Regions from separate parts of the Homo sapiens genome. Here region 2 is linked to region 1. Evidence: fine-mapped expression QTL. Tissue or cell type: whole blood. Region 1 holds a variant in brackets; the other region holds the start of a gene. All regions are shown on one strand. Distances are between the middles of the regions.

Region 1 (4,383 bases):
CCCATCGTGTCCCCAGGGAACGCTAGGCCATGGCCACAAGGGGCTCATGGAGAGGGCAGCCTGGCTCCCTCCCAGGCCAAGGCCCGGCCGGACGACTCCTGTAAACCCAAGAGTGTCTATGAGAACTTCCGACTCTGGCAGCACTACAAGCCCCTGGCCCGGAGGCACCTTCCCCAGAGTCCTGACACTGAAGCGCTTTCCTGCTTCCTCATGTGAGTGTCCTCGGGGCGCCGGAGCTTGTCCTGCAGCTCACTCATAAAGAGGCTGCTGGATGGACAGGAGGTCACACTGTTCAGGGGAGCTTGCAGGGCGGTTGTGAGGGTGATGGGTTGTGCTATGGGAAGGTACGTTTTCAGCAACATTAATCTGGCTGCGGCTCAGGACAGACTGTCAGGGGCCTCACGTCAACTGCCTGTCACTGTCCCGTGAGTCCAGCCAATCCTTAATTTTTTTTTTTTTTTTGAGATGGACTTTCACTCTTGTTGCCCAGGCTGGAGTGCAATGGCGCGATCTCAGCTCATCACAACCTCCGCCTCCCGGGTTCAAGTGATTCTGCTGCCTCAGCTTCCTGAGTAGTTGGGATTACAGGCATGTGCCACCATGCCTGGCCAATTTTGTATTCGTAGAGATGGGGTTTCTCCATGTTGGTCAGGCTGGTCTTGAACTCCCGACCTCAGGTGATCTGCCCGCCTCAGCCTCTCAAAGTGCTGAGATTACAGGCATGAGCCATCATGCCCCGCCCCAATACTTACTTTCTTTTCTTTTCTTTTCTTTTTTTTTTTTTTTTGAGATGGAGTCTCACTCTGTCGCCCAGGCTGGAGTGCAGTGGCGCGATCTTGGCTCACTGCAAGCTCTACCTCCCAGGTTCACGTCATTCTCCTGCCTCAGGCTCCCGAGTAGCTGGGACTACAGGTGCCCACCACCATGCCCGGCTAATTTTTTTGTATTTTTAGTAGAGACGGGGTTTCACCATGTTAGCCAGGATGCTCTCAATCTCCTGCCCTGGTGATTCGCCCGCCTCGGCCTCCCAAAGTGCTGCGATTGCAGGCATGAGCCACCGTGCCTGGCTTTCACTTTCAATAATTTTCACAACAATGTTTACAGAAGACCCAGGTCAGAGAGCGTTCTTGGTGTGACATGAGCCACGGTTAGGGTTTAGGTCTTTTTTGTTTGTTTGTTTGAGATGGAGTCTCGCACTGTCACCCAGGCTGGAGTGCAATGGTGAGATCTTGGCTCACCGCAACCTCTGCCTCCTAGGTTCAAGCGATTCTCCTGCCTCAGCCTCCCAAGTACCTGGGCTTACAGGCGCCCGCCACCATGCCCAGCTAATTTTTTGTATTTTTTAGTAGAGACGGGGTTTCACTATGTTGAGCAGGCTGGTCTTGAACTCCTGACTTTGTGATCCACCCGCCTCAGCCTCCCAAAGTGCTAGGATTGCAGGCGTGAGCCACCGCACCCACCCTGGGTTTAGGTCTTTGAGTGTACACCCCAGTGCCTTCCCTCGAACTGAGTGTCAATGGCCAGGGGCACATCACATGGGGCTGGGGGGAGGAGCTGCAGGGCCCAGCAGGAACCTGGCACACACCCACACTGTTCTGCCGCGGTCCAGTTAGCACAGCGGTGGTGGAGCCTGCACAGGGGGATGGTCTTGGGACCCGCACTAGGGTCGATGCTGGGCAGGTATTAGCATCTTCACCGTCAATCCCCCCTAGAAAAAAGGACAATGGTGTTTCATTCAGAGGATGGCAAAGAGATGACCTGAGCTCACATATGACATACGTAGCACAGTGCCTGGCACATACTATGACACATTACATGACAGCAGTTATGATTACTGTCCCCATTACTACCATTATCAGGACTAGGCCATCTAGGAGAGTGCTCCCCAAAGCCACGGGCTCCAGTGATAGCTCTGAGTGCACCACGAGCCCAGCAGCCCAGAGCCGTGGACTGTGGTGACTGTGAGGCAGCAACATCAGCATCTGGGAGAGTTTGTGGTTTCATTCCCAGTCCCTGCCTCTCTCCACCCCGCGGCACCTCTGTGACCCTGTGTTTCCCGCTGATGAGCAAACAGGAGCTTGAGCATATCCACC[G/A]TGCAACACACTGGCCATTCCCCTAGGGGAGTCCCCTGCCTGGGGTGTAGGTGAAGGCGGCCCCGTCTTCCTCCCCAACAGTCTCGCTGCCCCCACACCCTGGAACTGGTTGCATCCCCCCTTGGAGCGGAGTCCCGGTGCACTGGGGACCCTGATTCTTGGAGTGTAGCCGCCCCGGGCTCACAGGCCTTTGCCTTGGCTCCTGTGGGAATGTGGGAAGCTGTGCCTGGCTGCTTGCAGTGGCTTGGACACCGCTCTGCTTTGGTTCTGGACGTGTGCTCCTGCTCCTCAAGCTCCAGGACCCTGAGGCTGTGTCCCCAGGGGCTGCCTTGCTCCAGAGTCCCCAGGAAGCTGGTTAAATGCTCAGTCCTGTGGCCCAGGAACCTGCACTTTAACCCTCGCTCCCAGGTCATTCTGTGTGCATGGTGTCTCAGTCAGCTCAGGCTCTGCCGTAACGAATCCCATAGACTGGGTGCTTTATCAAGACACATTCATGTCTCCTAGTTCCAGAGGCCAGAAGTCCCAGATCAAGGTGACAGCGGATTGGGTGTCTGGTCAGGGCCCTCTTCCTGGCTGGAGAGAGCTGCCTCTGGCTGTGTGCTCTTGTGGCTGAGAGCAAGAGCCCTGGTGTCTCCTCCTGCCCTTATCAGAGCTCGGATTCCATGACTGGGACCCACGCTCATGACCTGCTCTAACCCTGATTGCCTCCAAATACTGACACACTGACACTGAGGGCTTCAGCACAGGAATGTTGGGGACACACATGTTCCACCCATAGCACTGAGTTCGCTTGTCAACATCATAACACCGAGGACTTGAGAGGCAGTCGGAGAGGCCACTCAGTGGCTTCTATTGATGTTGGATCTTGGGGGTGTGTCCTGGAGGCTGAGGAGCCCACATGGGGGAGAACAGGACAGGGACAGATGGCAGGACAGGTGTGGGGAGGACAGGAGCCAGGTGTTGGGACCAGGTGGGCCCGGGATGGAGGGTGGGCTTACAGACTGGGACTGACTGCACTGGTTTACAGCCCAGTTCTCCGATCCCTGGCCCGGCGGAAGCCCACCATGACGCTGGAGGAGGGACTGTGGCAGGCCATGCGGGAATGGCAGCACACGAGCAACTTTGACCGGATGATCTTCTACGAGATGGCGGAAAAGTGAGTCTGGGGTCCTGGGGGCAGGGCCCGTGTGGCGGGGTGAGAGTGAATGACAGAGGCCCGGTGGCCGTGGTGGCTTCTCAGCATGGAGCATGAGGAGGGTGTGGACAAACACAGGATGCCCTGGGCCCCTGGCTCCCTCAGGAAGCTGCTCCTGACACCTAGAGTGCTCTGGGGTCTCTGTCCCGCCCTCTTGGGAAGCACCCCCTGCCTGGCCTGGGGCCAACCGCTGTCTTGACACTGGGGGTCATGGCGGGAGCAGCCAGCATCGCAGCCCAAAGGGGGTCTCCTCCAGCTGTGGGGATGGGGAGAAGGGGTGCTAGTGACTAAAGACAGAGTGGGGGGCAGGCTCCTCACAGCAGTGGCCAGAAGTCGGTTTTCTCCCATCCCAGCCTGGCCAGGGAGTTGGGTCAGGGGAGACCTGTACCTGGGACACCATGAGACCCCTCTCTGGCCTGACTGCCTTTGCTCCTGGGCAGAACCGTCCGTGAAGACAGACAGACAGCAGCCTCAGGGGAAACGGGCCCTGTCCTCTGGGCTCAGCTTTTGCTTCCTCCTGACCAGGGGTCTCCCGGGCCTCGTGTCCCTGGGTTATCCTTCAGGGGCCCACAGTCCCAGCCTCAGGACTCCTGCATCTGGGCATCATCCCTGACGCCTTCTGCCATCAACCCCACCCCCGGCCAGCTGATACCTGGAGGAGGGGTTCCCGGGACCCTCCTGGACCTCGTGGCCCTGACTTGAGTCAGGAAGCCCCATTGATGCCATGGGCTCTGCAGGGGCCGGGTGAGGGAGGGTGAGCCCAGAACTCTGGGAGCAGCTCCCTCCTGGGACTGGGGGATGGGTCCCAGTGAGGGCCTGGACAGCCCGCCGGAGGCACTCCCTCCCATCCCTGCCCTCAGCTGCTGCCTGGTCCTGGGGGGAGGGGGCCTGGACCCTCTCAGCACAGCCTGGGCCTCCTTCACCCACAGGTTCCTGGAATTTGAGGCTGAGGAGGAGATGCAGATTCAGAAATCGCAGTGGATGAAGGGGCCCCAGAGCCTGCCTCCTCCAGCCCCGCCGAGGCTTGAACCTCGAGGACCCCCTGCCCCTGAGGTGGTCAAGCAGCCAGGTACAGCTTCCCACATTCCCACAGGA
Region 2 (4,383 bases), 51 kb before region 1:
TTAAGGGGCTTACTAGATGCCAAGTTGCAGCAACCCTCACAACCCTCTGAGGTAAATGCCATTATTAATCAGGAGTTACGTTAACTTATCGAACTGTGGAAACTGGGATTTCAAGCATGCTCGTCTAATCACTATACTAATAATGCTTCAACCTGCCAATTTATTTTTTTATTCTGTAAGCCATAAGGAGCCAATGAAAAAAATTAAGGACAGCAGTAATGATCATCTTTACATGCTAGAACACACTACTCAGCCACGTGCAAGGTGGACTGACGCTGGGGTGAGCAAGGGTCTTGAAAGAGATAGTCAAAGTCTGGGTCAAAAATGCTGAGGAAATTCTGAGCATAAGAATGCATAGGAGAGGATAAAAACCTAAAATCTGTATCTAATAAACTTAGCTAGACTTTCTGATTGTTTTAAGTATGGGAAGGGATGAAGGAAGCTACCTCGCAGGTTACTAGCTGGGCCACTGGTTAGTAATTACTGTCCATCAATTCATGAGACAGGAGGAGGAACTGGTGCTTTAGTTTTGTGTAGCAAGCAGGAAGAGGACAAGTCTACTTAACGCGAATCAAAATGAGAGCAAGCAATTATACAGAATTTCTCTCCCTCGACAAAATAAGCTTCTCATATTACAGAGATCTTAACTTTGAAATGCTTTTCAAAATAGGGAGTCACTTGGGCTGGGAGGGGACTTCAACTAAGTCCTCATTTTACAGAGGAGGCACTGAGGGGCAAGGCTGTTTCAATACCCTGTCCAGAGTGCGCACTGTTCAGGCAAAACCAGGACTAAAAACCAGCTCTGCCGGATCCGTTCTACCTACTGCTCCTTCTGCTTCAGCTGCCCTCCCAACCTACTAATAGGGATTTACATCCCCAAATACGTTCATGTAAACACTTAGCATTCTTCAACTAAACACAAAATCAGATATGTAAGCTAAAAATCTAAAGCCAAAAACATGTATTTAATTTCCATAAAATTTCTACTTTTCTTTGGAAAAACTTTCCCATTGTGTCAGTTTCTATTCACTGTAACATTCTCTATATTTCAGGTCCTAAGACCAAAAAAAAAAAATCCTTTTTAAACTTAGGCCTTGAAGAAACGACAAACCCTCTAGGCTTAATATTGCACCATATGAAACCACTGACACAGACAAGGCCTGTTCTGCCGAAACCAGGCCAGTTAAGTCAGGGCTCAATTGCTTCTGTATCATTGTCAGAAGCCATCTCGACCTCAAGCAAAAGTAAAACTGGAGAAAGAGGCCAGCCTAACTTGCTCCTCGGCTGGTCCCCAGCAACGCCCCTGGAAACTCTGCTCCCCATCGCTAGGACCGCCCCTCCGACGCCGGGAGAACACGGAAGGAGCAGCAAGGCGCTGCCCGGCATCTGCCGCCAACTTCCCCGTCGACGGTCTGATTCAAATGCTCCCTACCTGTTTTCCATGTAGACTTGGAGAGAAACTGCGCCAGGAAAACTGTTATCAACTGTTACAGGGACGGAGAACTCCGAAATAACCAAATTACTACTTATATTCACTGTCCCATGTCTAGCGCCTTTTGAAACAATAACCAAATCCTGTAAAGTTTTGTCTGCGATGAGCAGTCACTAGGAAAAACCTGTATTCGTGATGAATTCGCCTCCCCCCCCAGAAAAGGACCGACTTTCCAAGAGCCGAAGCCCCTGCCCGGAGCGGCGGGCTCGCGGGCCCTGGGTGCGACCCCACCCAGCCTCCCCGGGATTCAGGCAGCCGGGCCCCGCGCCCGCGCTCACCCAGGTGCTCCCCGCGGCCTGCGCGCCCGCGCGCTTCTCCGGCATGGCTCCCGCCTCGGGCTCCGACGCCGCCTTCTCCTCCAGCTCCGGCGGCGGCTCCACGCTCATGCCGCGGCCATGCCCGCGCCAGCCCGGGGCGCTCCGGGACGACGGCGACGCCGCGGAGGCGGCGGCGGTGCCCGCGCCCTCATGGGCTCTGCGGCCCGCGGCGGCCTGCGGGTCAGGCGGCGGCGCCAGCGGCGGCGCCGAGGGCTGAGGAGGCGGCGGAGGCTGAAGCTGCGGATCAGGCTAGCAGAAGACCGCAGCTCCAGGAACCGACCACTTATCAAACCGCACCGACCCCGACTCTCGCAGTTACCGGCGGCGTCAGGGGCGGGCTGCACGGTTAAGAGACTGTGCCCCGCCCCGCCTCCCCACAGGCCGGCGCCGGGCAGGAGGCCCCGCCCCGCACCTCAGCTCCCGCCTCGAGAACGAGTCCCGCGCCTGAGTAGCCTCCAGCGACGCCACGCCCACTTCAGAGACCCCTCCTTTACCTCGCGACTGGCCCCTTGGCATCAGGACTTCGCGGCGCGCGGGAAGTACGTCATTTCGAGAGCCCGTACGACTGATTTCTTTTTCCGGAGAATCTGGACTGAGGCTAGCAAGCGGGGAGGGGCAAACTCGTGGGGGTTTGGTAGTGATTGCAGTTCAGTTTTGGTCTTGGTTTGCGCCAACCCGCCAACCTCTCAAGTTTTTCTATGGTTCTCTAAGAAGAAAATAATATACTAGCAATGTTTCCCAAACGTACTTGAACACAACACTTTTTATTCTTGACACATGATTAATATCTTGTAGAATGTGTAGGACGCAGTTGGAAAAGCCTGGCTTATGTTTATTTATTTTGAAAGATATGCACCTAATACTGAAATATAAAAAAGCCTACAGGCCTGGAGCGGTGGCCCACACCTATAATCCCAGCACTTTGGGAGGCCGAGGCGGCTGGTTCACCTGAGGTCAGGAGTTAGAGACCAGCCTGGCCAACGCGGTGAAACCCTGTCTCTACTAAAAAACAAAAACAAAAACAAAAAACACCAAAAAAATTAGCCGGGCTTGGTGGCGCACGCCTGTAATCCAAGCTACTCGGGAGGCTGAGGCAGGAGAATAGCTTGAACCTGGGAGCCGGAGGTTGCAGTGAGCCGAGATAGCGTCACTGCACTCCATCCTGGGCGACAGAGTGAGGCTCTGTCTCACAAAAAAAAAAAAAAAATCTTTTTACAAACATCAATAGAAAAAAGAATAAAATTATTTCTATTAACAGGATTAGTAATTTTAATTGAATTAAAGTCATTTCATTTAAGAATTTTTTCAGGTTGGGCGTGGTGGCTCACGCCTGTAATCCCAGGACTTTGGCAGGCAGAGGTGGGCGGATCGCCTGAGGTCAAGAGTTCCAGACCAGCCTGGCCAACATGGTGAAACCCCGTCTCTACTAAAAATACAGAAGTTAGCCGGGCATGGTGGCGGATGCCTGTAATCCCAGCTACTTGGGAGGCTGAGGGAAGAGAATCGCTTGAACCCAGGAGGCGGAGGTTGCAGTGAGCCGAGATGGTGCACTGCACTCCACCCTGGGTGACAAGAGTGAGACTTCGTCTCCAAAAAAAAAAAAAAAAAAAGCCTCTTTTTCGCTTCCCACCCACTACCCCCAAACACACACACACACACTTTGCAGAAGTCTTTACTTTTATTTATTTATTTATTTATTTGAGACAGAGTCTTGCTCTGTCACCCAGGCTACAGTCACCCAGCCTAGATCAGTGGCGTGATCTAGGTTCACTGCAACCTCTACCTCCCGCATTCAAGCGACTCTCCTGCCTGAGCCTGCCGAGTAGCTGGGATTACAGGTGCGCGTCACCATGCCCGGCTAATTTTTGTATTTTTAGTAGAGACGGGGTTTCACCATGTTGGCTGGGCTGGTCTTGAACTACTGACTTCAAGTGATCCGCCCCCCTCGGCTCACCGAGCCGGCCTGGTCTTTTTTCTTTTTTTTTTTTTTTTTTTGAGACGAAATTTCGCTTTTGTCGCCCAGCCTAGATCAGTGGCTCGATCTCGGCTCACTGCAACCTGTGCCTCCTGGGTTCAAGCAATTCTCCTGCCTCAGACTCTCGAGTAGCTGGGATTACAGGTGCATGCCACGACCTGGCTATCTTCTGTATGTTTAGTAGAGACAAGTTCACCATGTTGGCCAGGCTGTTCTCGAATTCCTGATCTCAGGTGATCCACCCGCCTCGACCTCCCATAGTGCTGGGATTACAGGCGTGAGCGACTACACCCAGCCTGATTTGTCTACTTTTCTGAATGATTGTTTTAACAAATAGTTTTCAAAACACAGAGGGAATATATGTATTATGTTATGCTGTTTGAGTATTATGTTTATGCCACTTATGAGCTTGGGTATCAGTTTCTGATTCCTGTATCCATGAAACAGAAAAGTTTGTAAACTGTTTTTTTGTTTTCTTTTGAGACAGTCTTGCTCTGTTGCCCAGTCTGGAGTACAGTGGCGCGATCTCAGCTCACTGCAACCTCTGCCTCTCCGGTTCAAACGATTGTGGTGCCTCAGCCTCCCGAGTAGCTGGGACT

What was found. PIP is the estimated chance that this variant, and not a neighbour inherited with it, causes the effect.
Region 2: it holds the start of SLC71A2, and the variant in region 1 is fine-mapped to the expression of SLC71A2 in whole blood (INTERVAL, PIP above 0.99). The same link has a PIP of 0.9 or more in T cells, adrenal gland, blood mononuclear cells, cerebral cortex, monocytes and nucleus accumbens.

The regions. Positions count from the first base shown.
Region 1 is chr9:94,321,067-94,325,449 of GRCh38, reverse strand. NUTM2F (NUT family member 2F) reads left to right here. Exons shown (of 7, transcript NM_017561.2): 2 at 1-212; 3 at 3,121-3,249; 4 at 4,218-4,357. It overlaps LOC105376154 (a long non-coding RNA gene), which reads right to left. Exons shown (of 3, transcript XR_930132.4): 3 at 1,448-1,708. Among named protein-coding and RNA genes, the nearest start is that of NUTM2F, 5.4 kb to the left of the region's middle. The variant G/A (reference allele first, on the strand shown) is at 2,094.
Region 2 is chr9:94,372,315-94,376,697 of GRCh38, reverse strand. It overlaps SLC71A2 (solute carrier family 71 member 2), which reads right to left and starts at 2,129. Exons shown (of 12, transcript NM_032558.3): 1 at 1,771-2,129. The coding sequence starts at 1,878. RefSeq lists enhancers at 1,360-1,859, 1,860-2,361 and a silencer at 1,911-2,310.